2 separate regions of the Homo sapiens genome follow, and region 2 is linked to region 1. Evidence: fine-mapped QTL for protein levels in blood plasma. A gene starts in region 1. The other region holds a variant in brackets. All regions are shown on one strand. Distances are between the middles of the regions.

Region 1 (8,512 bases):
ACTGAGCTGCAAGGCAAGAACTCCATGAGAGGAATTCCAGGTAGAAGGCCAAGTAGGTGCTCAGGGGAGAGATTTGAGACCAGAAAGTGTCAGGCAACTCCTGTCTTCACTCCCTCCCTCTCTCAAGGCTATGTATGCACTGTTCTCTATTTCCTCTTTTCACGGTTCCATTTGTCCCCCTCTGCTGAACAGCTTCTCTCTGCTATCATCCCCTTCCATGTCCCCTGGAGCTCACCTGGCTTCCCAGCTACACTTCCCTCCCTGACTCAATTTGTTGAGTCAGTTTGTTGAGTTGATTTGCTGAGTCAGTTTGTTTCTCAATTCTGTTTTTACATTCCTTGGAGAGAGTATCTGATTGGCTGTGCTTGGGCCAGGCATTCATTATTGATTCCATCCCTAGTGAACAGGGGGTGTGGCCACCTGGGGGTTGGGGCTGCCCCTTCCAGGGACGTGAGCAGAGCAGATTCCATGAAAGGGGTATGGAGAAGGAAGAATCTTAGTGCAACAGCCACTCAGCTGGGATGTTGTAGAGGAGATTCAGGCTTCAAGTGGTTTCATGACTTCTAATCTTAGGAAAGGTCCTTCATTTCTGTTGTAATAACAACAACAACTAGCATTTATTGAACTTCTATAATGTGTCAGATGCCCTTCTAAGCACTTCACATGCACTGACTTAACTTATTCGATGCCTGTAAAAGTACTTAGATGGGCAGTAGAGGGGAGGGGAGGGCAACAAAAAACGATGTCACTAGGGTGTTGCTGTAGATTGGATGTTTGTAACCCCCCAAAATTCCTATGTTGAAACCTAATGTGATGATGTTTGCAGTGGAGAATTTGGAAGATGATTAGGGCATGAAGGTGGAGCCCTCATGAATGGGATTAGTGTTCTTATAAAAAAGATCCCAGGCCAGGCACGGTGCCTCATGCCTGAAATCATAGCACTTTGGGAGGCTGAGGCAGCCAGATCATAAGGTCATGAGTTCGAGACCAGCCTGACCAACATGGTGAAACCCAGTCTCTACTAAAAATACAAAAATTAGCCAGGCGTGGTGGTGTGCGCCTGTAATCCCAGCCACTCAGGAGGCTGAGGCAGAAGAATCGTTTGAACCCAGGAGGCAGAGGTTGCAGTAAGCAGAGATTGTGCCTCTGAACTCCAGCCTGGGCAACAGAGCGAGACTTTGTCTCAAAAAAGAAAAGAAAAGAAAAGAAAAAAATCCCAGAGAGCTCCCTAACTCCTCCCACAAGGTGAGGACTCAGTGAGAAGACTGCTGTCTATGAACCAGGAAGTGGGCCCTCACCAGATATCAGCGTCTGCCAGCACCATGATCTTGAACTTCTCAGCCACTAGAATTGTGAGGAATAAATTTCTGTTGTTTAGAAGCCTCCCAGTCTGTGGTATTCTGTTACAGCAGCCCAGCTAAGACACAGGTTATCTCATTCCAACATTCAACAAACTGACCTACGAAGTCCAATCTCAATTTGATCCACTCTTACTCTTAATGATCTATCTTATAAAACAGAAACACATCTTCCTGACATTTTCATCCTCACATAAAAATTCTTCTATCCATTGATAAGGTTTTGATGTTTAGGCTTTTAAAACAAAGATAGTTTATTTCTGAAAAAAACTGAAAAGAGAACTAGAAAAAGAAGATAAATCACAATGCACAGTGCAATGAAACTTCGTTTTTAAAAAATAGCCTTATTAACATATAATTGACTATACCCACTTAAAATACACAATTTGATGAACTTTGATCAATGTATTCACCAGTGAAACCATCACCACAATCAAGGTAATGAACACACCTATCACCTGCAAAAGTTTTCATGTGCTTCTCTGTAATCCCTTCCCTTCCTACTCAAACTCATGCCTCTTGTCACAAGGTTTCTCCACTCTGGCTGTTGGGAACGAACTATTGCCTGGCCAATGCAAGCTCAGAAGTTTTTCTGCCAGCTTTTTTCTAGTGGTTGCCTCTCTGTCTTGGGAAGTTTCCTCACATGCATGTACCTGGTCGAACTTCTGCTGAAGACTCAGAGGAACCCTGCACAGATCTCCAGAGCTCCCTCCTTCCGTTGCACTCTCTCCTCTCTGGTACTCTAGCCACCCTGGCCTCCCTGAATTCTCAGCTCTATTTTCCAACTCAGAGTCTCTTTTGGTTCGCCTGTCTGCATTGCGGCTTGGAAACCCTCTCCAGGCAGTAAGCTGGAGCAAGCAGCATGTTCACTTCCTTTGTCTCCCTTCTCTTGGGCCCTGCATTGCCTGTTGCCCAATGTCTGAAAACCATTGTTCCATACATTTTTTTCACAGATTTTTCATTTCAGGTCACAGAGTAAGTCCAGTCCTTGTTGCTCCCTCCTGGCTGAAGCAGATGTCAACACTTATTTTTAAAAAATAGAAAATCATTTACAACAAGCTCATTGCAAAAAAAAAATTCAACAAAGTCTTATAAATTATAAAAGTCAGTATTTCCCCTTCAGTACTTGCAACTCACAGCCCAGAAATAACCACTGCTCACGGTAAACACAACATTAAATAATTTCCACTTCTCCCAAAAAGACCTATTGTAAAGTTGCAGATGCAGGAAAATCTTTGATGGTGCTGGAGGGATTTAGAAATGAATGCCCCTGAGAAATGCTGTCCTCTCCCCTGTCCACTTCCCTACCACGGAACATGTGAGCTAGGGCTCACTCTATACTGACTTCTCTTTCACGGTCCCAAAGGCAGGAGTGAGGTGGTCAAAGTCTCTGTGAAGGCACATAAAATCATGTATGTGAAAGTGTTTGGCAAACTTTGAAATCATGTACAATTCTTAGTTAATATTATATATTATCATGTTATTTTTAATATTAATAACTTATATAACAACTAGTCCTTGGAGGGTTTGATGATACCCTCAGTCAGCATTTTCATCACTAGTGAAAGTTTCTCCTCATAACAATCCTGCTCAAGCTCTCCAAGGTCTATGGCAAAAAATAAAAATAAAAAATAAAAAGCATTATGTTGCTTCAAGGTCATCTTACAATGACTGCAGTTGTGTGGGATGAGTATGCCATATGAGGAAGAATCTCCAGGCCGAAGTGGTACAGTCCAGACACAGCCTTTAGAGCTAAGAGGCCATTTCTTTTAGCCTCAAAAATCACTCAAATATACCCCTGCAAAAACTTTATAATTTCTCCCTTTGATGGAATGGCAAGTAACATTGAGCTTTTTTCTTTCTTTTCTATTGCTACCTTTTAATTTTACCTCCTACTCTGATCTGGATCTGCAAGCAATGGGTTCCTAAATGTCAACTCTGGAGATAATAAACACATAGCAGAGACTGATATTTTCCCACCAATTATTTATTCTTTCAATCCTAAAAAATACAGACACTTAACAGTGTTCTATTTACAATGTGCGCATCCAGGCAAAAATTTCCGGACAGGCTAAAAAGCAAGAAAATGCGATCCACAATCAGGAGAAAAATGAATCAACAGAAACTGATTCAGAAACAAACAAGATGCAGATGCTGCTCACAGAAGTCTAGAACGCCAAGGTGAAGCCCCCACTGGGTTGGACATTTTCTTATTCCTTATGTCATTTAAAGCACAACTCCCGAGATTTTACGTGATATAACCGCTAGAGGCCTCTCTGTCACAGGCTGTATTACTCCCAGGTCCCCATGTTGGCTGTGTTCAGATTTTTTGTTATATTTGTGGAAATCTGAGTGCATGTGACGACTGCTATTTATGGGTTTTGTTTTTATTTTTAAAGACAGGGTCTTGTTCTGTCCCCCAGGCTGGAGTACAGTGGTGTGATCACAGCTCATTGCAGTCTCGAACTCCTGGGTCCAAGCCATCCTCCCAACTCAGCCTCAGGACTTACAGGCGAGTACCACCTCACCAGGCTTGATTTTTGTGTTTTTAAACAGACTGAACATCTTTCAGTACTTCCCATCCCCACCCCTCCCGGCCCTGACTCCGCCACCCCAACCCCGCCCCACTTTGTACTACCCAAGCACATCTTGGGAACATGATGCGGAAAGTCAGGGACGCTGGAGGTGAAGGACTGATGACGCGCTACGGTGGTCCTAGGTGCGCGTGCCCCCTCTCTGGAGTAGTCCCGGGGGTCACGAGGATTTGAAGACAGGCCCTCCCTTCCCACTGCCCCCATTCCCCCGAATGCCAAGCCCCTGTGGGCAGGCGCCCTGGGCAGGTGTGGTTGGTTGCTAAAGCCTGCTGGGCCCAGACATGAACCCTGCCCTAGCTGGGCAGCGGCGCGGGAGCAAAGTTGTTCTGAGGCTGCCCTCCCCGGGGCCTGCTCTCCCAGCCCTGGAGGAGCCGGCGCGAGACGCGCGGGGGCGGGGCCGCGCGGGGGGGCGGGGCTCACCAAGGCTCCACCCCGCCGCGGCCACTGTTCGCACACACCTGGTGCTGATCAACGCCGAGGCCGACTCGTCGCCACCCAGCGCGCCGCAGGCCGGGGCGGAGAGGCGCAGGGCGCTGGGCAGTCTCCGGCGAGGGCAAGGAGCGGTGCCCGGCTGGGCCGGCTATGTCTCCCGCTACTGCGGTTCCCGCCGGCGCCCGCGACCTCGGGGGAGCAGCCGGGTTCGGGGGCGCCGCGCTGTGAGGCCGGGGCCTAGAGCCAGCCGCGGCCGCGCAGGAGGGGCCCAGGGCCCGCGCTCGCCCGCGTCCCCGCCTTCCTCCCGCGCTCAGCCCCGCCTCGGCTCGCTGCCCTTGGCTCTCGTCGCCATGGCCTCCGTCGCCCAGGAGAGCGCGGGCTCGCAGCGCCGGCTACCGCCGCGTCACGGGGCGCTGCGCGGGCTGCTACTGCTCTGCCTGTGGCTGCCAAGCGGCCGTGCGGCCTTGCCGCCCGCGGCGCCGCTGTCCGAACTGCACGCGCAGCTGTCGGGCGTGGAGCAGCTGCTGGAGGAGTTCCGCCGGCAACTGCAGCAGGAGCGGCCTCAGGAGGAGCTGGAGCTGGAGCTGCGCGCGGGCGGCGGCCCCCAGGAGGACTGCCCGGGCCCGGGCAGCGGCGGCTACAGCGCAATGCCTGACGCCATCATCCGCACCAAGGACTCCCTGGCGGCGGGTGCCAGCTTCCTGCGGGCGCCGGCGGCCGTGCGGGGCTGGCGGCAATGCGTGGCGGCCTGCTGCTCCGAGCCGCGCTGCTCCGTGGCCGTGGTGGAGCTGCCCCGGCGCCCCGCGCCCCCGGCAGCCGTGCTCGGCTGCTACCTCTTCAACTGCACGGCGCGCGGCCGCAACGTCTGCAAGTTCGCGCTGCACAGCGGCTACAGCAGCTACAGCCTCAGCCGCGCGCCGGACGGCGCCGCCCTGGCCACCGCGCGCGCCTCGCCCCGGCAGGGTAAGCGCGCGACTGAGGGGCCGGCCTTGGCCAGAGCGCTCGAGACCCGCAGCGCCCTCGCCAAGTTGGAAGCGAAACACACTCGTGCCAAGTTATTTTAGCCGCGGGCACCCAGAAGAGTTTCTGGCATGGGTTTCTCTGTCTTAGGGAAGAGGAAGCCCAGTAGTTTGGCAGAAGCGGGCGGGCGGGCGCGGTGACGTGCTACTGGAATTTTTCTAGGCTTGAAGAGAAAGGCTGATCTGAGAGGATTCGTGGAAATATGACTTAAAAGGGGAGAAATGCTGAGAGAAAAAAGTTTGTTTTAGTCTCATGGGTTGTATAAGGCATGGTTTGTGTTAAGTAATTGCAAGAGCAAAATCTAATTAGATGCCGGGCTTCTCGTAACACCCACTCCTTTTTCTTGACGTGGCTCTCCTGACTTTGCCTGCGGTGGCTTTCATCATACAAAAATGGGAGGAAAACTTCTGGTCCCTTTTATAAAAAGTGAAAAGAGGGGACTTGATTTTCGTTGAAAATAAGAAACTTTAAGGCCGGGCGTGGTGGCTTATGCCTGTAATCCCAGCACTTTGGGAGGCCGAGGAGGGCGGATCACCTGAGGTCAGGAGTTTGAGACCTGCCTGACCAATGTGATGAAACCCCATCTCTACTAAAAATACAAAAATTAGCCAGAGCTGGTGGCATGCGCCTGTAATCCCAGCTATTCGGGAGGCTGAGGCAGGAGAATCGCTTGAACCTAGGAGGCGGAGGTTGCAGTGAGCCGAGATCGCGCCATTGCACTCCAGCCTGGGCAACAAGAGCGAAACTCCATCTTAAAAAAAAAAAAAAAAAAAGGAAAAGAAAATAGGAAACTTTAAAGCGTGTTTCTTAAGGACTAAAAATGATGCTGATTCGACGGTTTGACTTTTTGTAGATGCTCTGAATGAGAGAATCAGGACACATACAGGAGGCACAAAAATGGTAGTGGTTGGACATGAATGTCACGGAGGGAATAAGAGACCTTGATTGTGCCCACGTGTGGTCAGGCTCCGTGTGTTTAATCATGCCCTGTTGCTGTTTGATTTATAATAGCACGAATGATATCAGCAAGATGGGGGCGGAGCTCAGCCCCTTTGGAAGTGTGGATTCTCCAAAACCTGTGGATCCATTGAAAGAGTCTGGAAATCTGTGTCCATCACATCCTGCCTCCCTCCCCACCTCTACCTTAGATGAGGCTCAGAATCCTTGTCAGGGGAGCAGATATCAAAGGGTCACCCTGCGACTGCTTGGCCTTGAGGCAAACACTGGGAAGGACTCCATAGCTTTCCTTCTGAAGTGGAGGCAGGCAGCACTTTCACTTGGACCCCCCATCAGCATCTCTGAGGCCCACCACGGCTGTTGCACACACATCCTCTCTGCCCAAACACAGACCAAAATATCCCAGCAGCAAAGAAACAAAGTCTTTTCTCTGTGTTCTCACTACTTACCTGGAAGAAACTGACATTGCCAAAGTGAGCTTTCCTATAAACCCAGAGGAAACCTTTGAAAAGGAAAATAAACAAGGAAAGAATATGCCATAGAACAAAAATTTTAAAGTTTAGATTACTTGGAGACGCCAGGCACGGTGGCTCATAACTAACCCCAGGACTTTGGGAGGCCAAGGCGGGTGAATCACTTGAGGCCAAGAGTTAGAGACCAGCCTGGCCAACATGACAAAACCCGTCTTTGCTAAAAAGAAATAAACACAAAAATTATCCTGGCATGGTGGCGCCTGTCTATGATCCCAGCTCCTCGGGCGGCTGAGGCAGGAGAATCGCTTGAACTGTGGTGGTGGAGGTCGCAGTGAGTACAGATTGCGCCACTGCACTCCAGCCTGGGCAACAGAGGGAGACACTGCCTCAGAAACAGAAACAAAAACTTCAGGTTACTATGAGAAGTTTCTGGGTTGTTTTTCCTCTTGCTTGCTTCGTTGCCCTTCCTTTCCCCAGGGGAGTTTGTCTAGGAATTGTTTTGTAGATGTTTGGGATGAAAATAGGCGAGCGCGGTGCTGGTCCTCATTTCTGGGAGAACACTGCTGTGCTCAGACTTCCTGAGGTCCCAGCAACATGGAAACGCGGAAGGTGCGGCTCAGGTTCCTGTAGAGGCTCATTTGTTCTCTCTGCGTGGAGGTCAAAAATTGTTCCCCAGTGTCCTGTGTGTCCCCTGCTCAGATGCTTGACAGGTTGAAGTTGTTTATGCTTCAGAGACTAAGTTTTTCCTTCTTGAATTGTTCGTTTTTGGGTTGTGAGCATGTGAAAATGGTTTAGAAGAGCCCTTGGAGAGGAGCTGTGACTGGATCCATCTGAGGTGGATGAAAGCACCATGAAGAAATGGTGATGGGATAGCACGAACTTACAGCAGGACACACCAGCCCTGTTTTCATGCCCACATTTGTTGACTTTGGTGTTAGGTGCTGTCCTCAGCCCTTTGCACGCATGAACTCACTCTGTCCTCACAACAACACAAAGGCCTAGGTTCTGTTATAATCCCTAGTGTATACAAGGCTTGGCAAGCGAAAGTAACCTGCCCAAGGGTCACACAGCATGGGGTTGTGGAGCCTGAACTCCTATGCTTTCTCCAGCAGCACCAGCAGAAGCTGAGAAAGGGATCACTAGGCTGGGACTGCGAGGGTAGAGGTAGGGAAGGCGGGAGGATGCAGGAATGAGTGAGAGATGCTGGAGAGAGGTGTCTTGTAGTGACTGAGCCTGCCTGCTAGAATCTGTAGAACAGAGGAGGGTGCTTGAAGTTCTGGGGCCTGGCGTCTCCACAAACAAGTCCCTGCTCATGCCCCCAGGACTTGGTGTCTGCTTGTCCTCCATCCCAGGCTGTCGTGAGGTTCAAGGGGGGACATGCTTTGTGAGTTAGGAAGGTGGCACGCATGTACATGATACTGTTCTAGGAACCTGGTTGGGTCATGCCCATGACTAGAGGGTTGGGGGACTGGATGTCATGATAAAAAGTGAAGAACAGCAGGAGGGAGGGAGGGAGGGAGGAGAGGTAGAAGCTAGAGCTGCTAGGATTCCAGAAGAGCAGGGAATATAACCTCCAAGGACTCAAGGACGATAACCTTTATGTGGTTTTTGCTGGATATTCAGCCTGAAGTCCAGTATCTCGGGGAAGAATTTGGGAAGTGGGCCCCTTGCCTTGTGT
Region 2 (8,512 bases), 23 kb after region 1:
CCTCTCACTGCGGATGAAGGTGGGAGGAAAAGTTTCCAGAAAAAAGGAGACAGCAGACCCTGGTCTTCCCAGAGCTCAGGCCTCCTGGCCACTGCAGTGACCCAGGCAAGAGACAGGCTGGGGTCAGAGCAAGGTGGTACCCGCGGACAGGGTGATACATGGTCAAATTCTGGATGTGTTTTTAAGGCAGACCCCATGGAAATTCCTGATGGATTGGAGGTGAGATAGAAGGATCATTAAATGCAATCTTGAGGTCTCAAACCAGAGTTCTAGTCTTGTTTTCACTCTTATTTATCTGATTCTCTGATCTTATCTGACCAGATAAGACCTGGTCTTATCCGACAGATAAGACCTGAGCCCCAAGTCTTATCTGATCAGATTAAGACATTATCTGGTCTTGTCCTGTCTCAGACTGACTTCCACTTTTATTTCAGTGGGTTCTGATTCCTAGCATCAGCAGCCCACTCCAGGCTCTTTGGAAGTTCTCTTATTGTCATTAGAGCTCTCTCTGCTGCCCTTAGTATTTTAGCACTCACGTAAATGACCCGTTTGGCATTCTGTCAGTGTAGTTGGGCCTGAAGGTAATGTAACAGCGTGGCAGTGAGCACTGCTTAACATCTCTTTGAAATAAACAACAAAAGGCAGGTGGCCGTCATTGCCAGCCCTCCAAAGTAAGGCTTTTGCAGGGAAAGTGGTGGACAGCTTGTAGGCCAGTGTAGACTGTTTTACAACTCGAGGTCTCAATTCTGTCACTGTCGCAGTGAATGAAAATCACTTCACGGGGATTCGTTTCTTTGTCTGTAAAGAGTCATTGTGTAATGTTCAGTTAGAGATAAGAATCAACCAGTGGAGATGGTGGATATATTTAAGCGCTTACTATGGGCCAGGCCCAGCTCTTTTACATGAGTTACCTTATTTGATCCTCATCAGGTAGGTGCTATTATTACTTCCATTTTACAAATGAAAACAATGAGGTTTGGAGACGTTAAGTGACTTGTACATCATCAGCCAGCTGGTACGGGGTAGGGCTGGCATTCAAACCCATGTCTATTGGACACCGGGTTCTGTGCTCTTAACCACGCACCAGTGTTTCTTTCAGTGTGATCATGGGTCACCTGGGTGGGCTTGGTAAGTGTAGAATCCTGGGTCCTGCTCTCCTGACCAACCCACTGACTCTGACTCTCTGAGGCTGGGACCTGGAAATCCATACCTTAGCTAAAGTGGCATAACATATGACAACCACGGTAATCTCATTATATCTAAATGATTGTAAAGCATCCTATGGGTGTGTATATGTAATGTTGACAAATCCTCTAAGCCTAAGTCAGTCCAAATTCTAGGATTTCCTAATTAAAAACAAGCAGATGGTTCTTATAATAGTACAATCCCATCCTCTGTAATTTCCAAAGTCCATTATTAACGCATCAATGTAATAGAATGTCAAATGGTCAGCATTCTGCAGAGGACAATATCCAGACTAGTTCATTTAAGCAGAAAGGAATTTTTTTAAATAGAATATTAAATAGGTAATAGAATCATTAGGAGAGCTGGAAAAACAGTCTTCAGGCTGACTGTCCAGCAGTGACTCCCAAAATCCTACCACAGAGCTGAGCTTCAGAAGCTGTTGTTCCAGCATGCTCAGCAAGCTGCCTGTGAATGTTGGGAGAGCAGAGGGCAAGCATGGAGCCCTGGGTTAGGGAGTGATCAGAACTGAAGCCCAGGAGGGCTTCTGCAATGAATGACTGGGGGAACTTGGATAGAAAAGGAGGCCAAGGAAGCAGGGGTTTTCAAACAGCCAAAGTGGCCAGCATGGCCAGATACAGTAAGAGGGCCAGTTAAACATGGATTTTTTTTTTTTTTTTTGAGATGGAGTCTTGCTCTGTCAGCAGATTGGAATGCAGTGGGTGATCTTGGCACACTACAACCTCTGTCTCCCAGTTTTAAGCGATTCTCCTGCCTCAGCCTCCCGAGTACCTGGGACTACAGGCGCACGCCACCATGCCCAGCTGATTTTTGTATTTTTAGTAGAGATGGGGTCTCACCATGTTGGCCAAGATGGTCTCCATCTCCTGACCTCATCATCCGCCCGCCTTGGCCTCCCAAAGTGCTGGGATTACAGGCATGAGCCACCGTGCCCAACCAAGCATGGATTTTTTAAAAATAGTATTGTTGGTCTTGACACCTAGGAGACTTTTGCTAGGTCAGTTAGTGAGTTTTGCCAGCACTGTTTCAGGGGGATGGTGGGGAAAGCAGCTACATTGGGTGGGCGAAGACTAAATGGGAAGTGAGCAAACAGAAACAGCAAGCACGGCACAGCCAGGCCTTTCAGGGAGCCAAGTGGAGATGGGAAGGAAGCGGGGCTGTGGCTGGTGAGCCCTTAGAGCTCAGGGAATTTTTTTTATTTGTTGTTTTGTTTGTTTCTTAGGATGAGAGAAACTTGAGCATAGTAATAGCAGAGCCATTTGAAAGAGAAATGAGTCGATGTGTCAGTGTTCTAAAGGTCCTAGAAAGAAAGGGGGCAAGGACTAGAAGGAGGGGTTGGCCTGGAACACAGGAGGGACAGCTTCTCCCTGCTGGCTGTCAGAAGGAAGTGACAGTGGGTACAGGTAGGGTACCAGGAGGAGGTGGGTGGTGGAGCCCTAGTCATGGTCCTGATTTTCTCCCTGAAGCTGATGAGTCCCCCTGCTGAGACGGCAGGGCCTGGATCCTGAGCGTGAGGCTGGGGATGAGGTGCAGGTTTGGAGCAGCAACTGCTGCAGACAAGTGAAGGGATTGTCAGTCAAGGCCTTGGCCACCTAAATAAACTAGAACTTATGAGTTCAAGGTGGGCCAGCTGCCAACAGTGTGTGATGTAGTTCAGCAGCCTCGGGCCGGAGTGCAGAGGCAGGTCCTGGGGCTGCTCTGAGGACATGGACTTTCGGTTGAGGATGGTGTTGGGCTCGGAGCTCAAGTCTGCTGCTCGACGTGATGTGTCCCATCTGTGTGGCAGGTGCCTCAATCAGGAACCCTGAAGCTGTCCCACCTACAGGAGGGAACCTACACCTTCCAGCTGACCGTGACGGACACTGCCGGGCAGAGAAGCTCTGACAACGTGTCAGTGACAGTGCTTCGCGCAGCCTACTCCACAGGAGGTGAGAAGAAAGTCCTTCCCTCGCTTCCCACTGCTTGTGGAAGGCAATGTCGGGTTGGCGCTTTGTCCTCTGGCTCTGCGCTCCATGGGCTCTTCCATTTTATTTTTGGTTATTGCTGAATGAGAGAGTCTTTGCTAAAAACACAATAACAAAAGCAGGCTCTCTTCTGTTTTGGGCTTAGCCGATGCTACTGGGTTGGGGTGGAGGAAGCACTCCAGGGGATGAGAAGAGATGCTCCCGCTTCTCTTGACTCGACTTCATCAAAGACAATTGCTTGGCTATTCTGGGAGAGGACTTTGTTTACAGATGGATGGTCCATTTGCTGCATCTGTTCCAAGAGGGAAGCTAAGGAGTTTAGTGAAACCAGTTGAACTCGTGGAAGCAGAGAGTGGAATGGCGGTTACTGGAGGCTGTGCGGGGGACGGACTGGGAAAGGAGAGACGCTGGTCAAAGGGTACAAAGTGTCACTGAGACCGGAGGAACAGGTTCTGGTGATCTGTTGCACAGCATGGTGACTATAGTTAATGATAATGTATTGTCTGTTTCAAAATTGCTAAAACAGTAGGTTTTAAATGTTGTCATCACAAAAAGATTACAAGTAGGGGAGATGATAGATATGTCAGTTAGCTTGATGTAATCATTCCACAATGCAAACATATATCAAAACATCACATTGTGCCTCATAAATATATACTCTCCTCTTTTGTCAATTAAAAATACATATTAAAAAAACAAGGAAAAGGCATACCACAGGATTGAAGAAAGACTTGGCTCTTGGGTGTAATCAATTGCTGATATAATAAGTCACTTCAAAAATTTTAGAAAGAGAAAAAGAGTGCAGCTAAGGAGTACGGTTAAAATTAATTGAAATACGCAAAGGACCCATCAATTTGAAAGTGCTACCTACACATTTTCATAGACACTTTACGCAGATGCAGTTATATTAATAATATAACTTTAAATACATATGATGGTTCTCACATTCTGTTGTACAATGTAACAATGTAAAACTTATTTCATTCATCTATGTTTCTTACTTTTCTAAACATCTACATTTTTTTTTTGAGAGGGAGTTTTGCTCTTGTTGCCTAGGCTGGAGTGGGAGTGCAGTGGTGCAGTCTCGGCTCACTGCAGCCTCTGCCTCCTGGGTTCAAGTGATTCTCCTGCCTCAGCCTCCCAAGTAGCTGGGACTACAGGTGTGCACCACCACGCCCTGCTAATTTTGTATTTTTAGTAGAGACAGGGTTTCACCATGTTGGCCAACCTGGTCTCGAATTCCTGACCTCAGGTGATCCACCCGCCTCAGCCTCCCGAAGCACTTAGACTACAGGCGTGAACCACCGCGCCCAGCCCAACGTCTACATGTCTAAGAAAGATTAGGTCATCAAATTTTTTAAAATATCCATTGCATGGAACTTAGCGACACTAAAGATATTGTAGTATTGTAGAGGGAACCCCTCACCACACACACAATTCACTTCTGGAGAGGTGCTAAGGTCTTGTACATTTAAATATCCTGTTACTCGGTCATCGTGTATTTTCTTAGTGTATGCAGTGTGCAGGGTCCTTGCCAGGCACTGGGGATAGAGTGGTGCACTGGTGGTCCCTGACTCTGGTAAACTTGCAGTAAGTCTGTGACATTTTTGAATTCTCAGTATTCAATACTCAGGATCCAGATGGTAATTAAGCCAGCAGAGTGCAGAATGA[G/A]GATAAAAGAGTTGGAACAGGACTGTGATTTACTTGTACTATATTGGATCTAGCCTTCTATCAAAAACTGAGGTTAGTATGCATACTGGAAATGAAATTTTCTAAGGAGTTAGAGATTTTAGGATCCTAAGGACTTGTCAACTTTGATAATTTTCATAGGCGGCATTAAAAATTTGTTTGGCTGATGACAACCTGTCCAGCCAGGGGTTAAGCTTACTGTAAGGAAGCAGGGTAACCATTCACAGACAGGACAGGCACCAAACTCCAGCCCGTGCCAGCACTGTGAGGTCACCAGTGATAGCGAGTAAACAGTCTGTCCAGCTCAGCCCGGATTCCATCAGCCCTGCTAATTCATTGCAGCTGGACAGGAGAGCCAGCCAGCTACTCAAAACATTGTTGAGTCCCTTTGCTGGGCAGCTACTCAAAACATCATTGGTCCCTTGGCCACCAGGACCAGTGGAGACATGACATTGTCTCCAGCAGGGATGGCTCACTTCTGTAGATCTGGGCGCCCTCTAGAGGGCTTTCCCCCTGGGTACCGGGACTCACCTGGACAGGGTCTGAGTCAAGTGCTGACTCTGGGAGGAAGGGACTCTTGGGAAAAAGACACAGATACCCTGTCATCCCCACAGAAATCAGAAAAGGATTGCTCTTGTACAGCTGAAGTGCCTGGGAGGGAGGAAGGGCCTGCACTGATATGAGCAGATGGCCAGCACCTCACCGGCCACTTGTTTGTCCTGGTTTATTTCCTCAGGCAGCTTTCCGGGCTCCAGAGGTAAATTGCCAGCTGTAAATTTCTGGCCCTTCTCCAAGATGATAATAAACTGTATTTGAAGTAGCAGAGAGTGGTGTGTGAATCATTTTTGATTACTCAGTGGCCGCTTGAGTATAGGTCTTGTGTGGGTAACTTTATATGGAAAATAAAAAGGAATTGGTGAAGTACTAACTGCTGTCTAGAATCACTTAGTGGTTATATTGGAATAACATGCTATGAATTAAAGTTAATAAAACACCACAGAGAGACATTGGAAAATAGAGGTAGAAGAGACAAGTGTTTCCCTCCCCTGCATTGTATGTATTGGTCTTGCAATGAATGACCCAGATGTTATGGTAACCAAGGGTGACACTAGCTGAGGTAGACAGATGAGCAGGTACCCTGCTTATATGATCATAACTTGGTTCAATTTTTAATAAGTTGACATTTTGAACATTTTTCATGCTTAGAAAAATGATCAAACAGCAAGCCAGCAAGCTCTTCCAACATGATCTAACTCAGCAGTCTCCAAACAGGATGCCCCTGAGTTGTTCAAGACATTTTTAGGGTGAGAAAGAAGACAGCAGAGTTTATATTTTTGCTGATTTTTAATTTTTTTCCTTAAAATTTGAGTATATTTTATAAGATACACCCCATGTTAGTACAGTAGTATGCACGTATTATTTATAAATAAACCGGACTAGCCGGATGTGGTGGGACACGCCTGTAATCCCAGCTACTCAGGAGGCTGAGACATGAGAGTCAGTTGAGCCTGGGAGCTGGAGGCTGCAGTGAGCTGAGATTGTGCCACCGCACTCCAGCCTGGGCGACACAGCGAGACTCCGTCTCAAATAAATAGATAAATAAATAAACTGGAGATGCCTGTTCAACAATATATTATTGATCAGGATGCATGATCAAAAAAGTTTGGAGGCTGCTAATCCAAAAATAGATAGAAAATTTACAAATATGGATCCATCTCCAAAATCACCAAAGAATAAATAAAACCTTGAGATATCTGGGATTTTCATGCCATGAATTTAAGAAACCTGACGAGGAACTGTATCCTGCTTGATATCCAGCGTGTCCCCCACCTCCGCTCCCTGCTTCTTCCCAGTGGCCGGAGCTGACTCTCCTTCAGGCCCATGTTCTCAGTCATAACTGCAGGCTCTTTGCTTCCTCTTCTTCCGCAGGAGCTTCTATCACCATTTATTTTCTTTAACTTCTCTTCCTCCTGGATCAATATATCTTCAAATTGCCTCACACCAAGATAGACTCCTTTTCCAACCTCTTGATTTAACCACGTTTCAATAAAAGATGTGTCCAAGGCCGGGCGCAGTGGCTTACACCTGTAATCTCAGCACTTTGGGAGGCTGAGGCAGGAGGATTGCTTGAGTCCAGTAGTTCAAGACCAGCCTGGGCAACATAGTGACACCCTGTATCTACAAAAAAAAAAAAAACAAAAAAAAACCAAGTGTATGTCCAAGATTTCACTTGGGTTTGTGAACTGTGCTCAGCCATTTGGTTTTGAAGGAATATCATATAATCTGCCACTTCCCCATGTTCCTGAGAGAATTGTCTAGTCCACTCTGTCCCTGTAAAACCGTGGAGCTCCTGTGACCTGCTTCTAGCCTTGTGCCTTAGTCCATGTTGCCAGTACCAGATAGTCACCCGGTTCTCCTCTAGCTAAGTCTAATAAAGTTGGCTTAATCAAGGGAGAGGGAAAATGCATTTCAGGAAAATATTTGTAGCTCCTATGAATTGCACTGCAAATTAAAAGCTCCTAAGAACTCCAGAAGGGAGAAATGTCGTTATTTCTTTCTTTTTTTTTTTTTTTGAGACAGAGTCTCCCTCTGTCGCCCAGGCTGGAGTGCAGTGTCACAATCTTGGCTCACTGCAACCTCTGCCTCCCAGACTCAAGTGATTCTCCTGTCTCAGCCTCCCGAGTACCTGGGACTACAGGTGCATGCCACCAAGCCCGGCTAATTTTTTGTATTTTTAGTAGAGACGGGGTTTCACCGTGTTAGCCAGGATGGTCTCGATCTCCTGACCTTGTGATCCACCCGCCTTAGCTTCCCAAAGTGCTGGGATTACAGGTGTGAGCCACCACGCCTGGCCAATGTCATTATTTCATGAAACTAAATTCATGCCAGCCCATAACTAAATTTTGTTTATTCTCTACAGTACCAGGGACGTTATGATAATCAACAAATAGGATTCAATAGTAAAAACTTAATCTCAGTGAAAAGTATTACTTAGGAGACAAGAATGTAAGACATAGCATATGTAAAATAGTACCTCTGGGCCAGGCACGGTGGCTAACACCTGTAATCCCAGCACTTTGGGAGGCCGAGGCAGGTGGATCAGTTGAGGTCAGGAGTTCGAGACCAGCCTGGCCAACAAGGTGAAATCCCATCTCTACCAAAAAACACAAAAATTAACCGGGTGTGGTGGTGCATGTCTGTAGTCCCAGCTACTCCAGAGGCTGAGGCAAGAGAATCTCTTGAACCCGGGAGGCGGAGGTTGCAGTGAGCCAAGATTGTGCCACTGCACTTCAGCCTGGGCGACAGAGTGAGACCTTGTCTTAAGTAAGTAAATAAATAAATAAATGGTATCTCTGTTAAAACATAGCCAACTGCCATCCAGGGGATGGGATGGTATTAGGTGCCCTCCTGCAGAGCAATCGACAGCCAGAAGAAGAGGTTCCAACAATGGTTTCTATGAATGAATGAATGAAGAGGGAGACAGCTGAGGCGGGGAATCAAGGGTGGAGAGAGACCTGGGCTGTTGCTTCTGTGTGCCACCTCCTGGCAAGGCAAGCATGGAGAACAGCCCTCAGACCAAGAGCCCCTGAGGAGTCTGAAGAATTAAGTCGGGAGGCTCAAAAAGAGCCCTCCAACCTCTCCAGAACCTGTTGCTG

Which allele goes with the higher level. Alleles are on the strand shown, and positions count from the first base shown. The strength of an association depends on the size of the effect and on how common the allele is.
For the plasma level of the protein whose gene starts at base 4,396 in region 1, allele A in region 2 goes with a lower level than allele G (weak association).

Evidence for each region. PIP is the chance, under the fine-mapping model, that this variant and not a neighbour inherited with it causes the effect. Protein levels are from antibody-based Olink assays in UK Biobank. Linkage for the fine-mapping came from a reference panel and not from the study's own genotypes, which makes the PIPs less certain.
Region 2: its variant is fine-mapped to the plasma level of the LRP11 protein (UK Biobank, PIP above 0.99).

The regions. Positions count from the first base shown.
Region 1 is chr6:149,860,243-149,868,754 of GRCh38, reverse strand. LRP11 (LDL receptor related protein 11) reads left to right here and starts at 4,396. Exons shown (of 7, transcript NM_032832.6): 1 at 4,396-5,347. The coding sequence starts at 4,735. It overlaps RAET1E-LRP11 (RAET1E-LRP11 readthrough), which reads left to right. Exons shown (of 15, transcript NR_182438.1): 7 at 1-52; 8 at 3,411-3,539; 9 at 3,758-3,870. RAET1E-AS1 (RAET1E antisense RNA 1) reads right to left here and starts at 5,257. Exons shown (of 2, transcript NR_045126.1): 1 at 4,373-5,257. RefSeq lists an enhancer at 4,085-4,585 and silencers at 4,242-4,691, 4,762-4,821, 4,962-5,071, 5,242-5,391.
Region 2 is chr6:149,837,602-149,846,113 of GRCh38, reverse strand. It overlaps LRP11 (LDL receptor related protein 11), which reads left to right. Exons shown (of 7, transcript NM_032832.6): 3 at 2,990-3,131. RAET1E-LRP11 (RAET1E-LRP11 readthrough) reads left to right here. Exons shown (of 15, transcript NR_182438.1): 11 at 2,990-3,131. Among named protein-coding and RNA genes, the nearest start is that of RAET1E-AS1, 22 kb to the left of the region's middle. The variant G/A (reference allele first, on the strand shown) is at 4,839.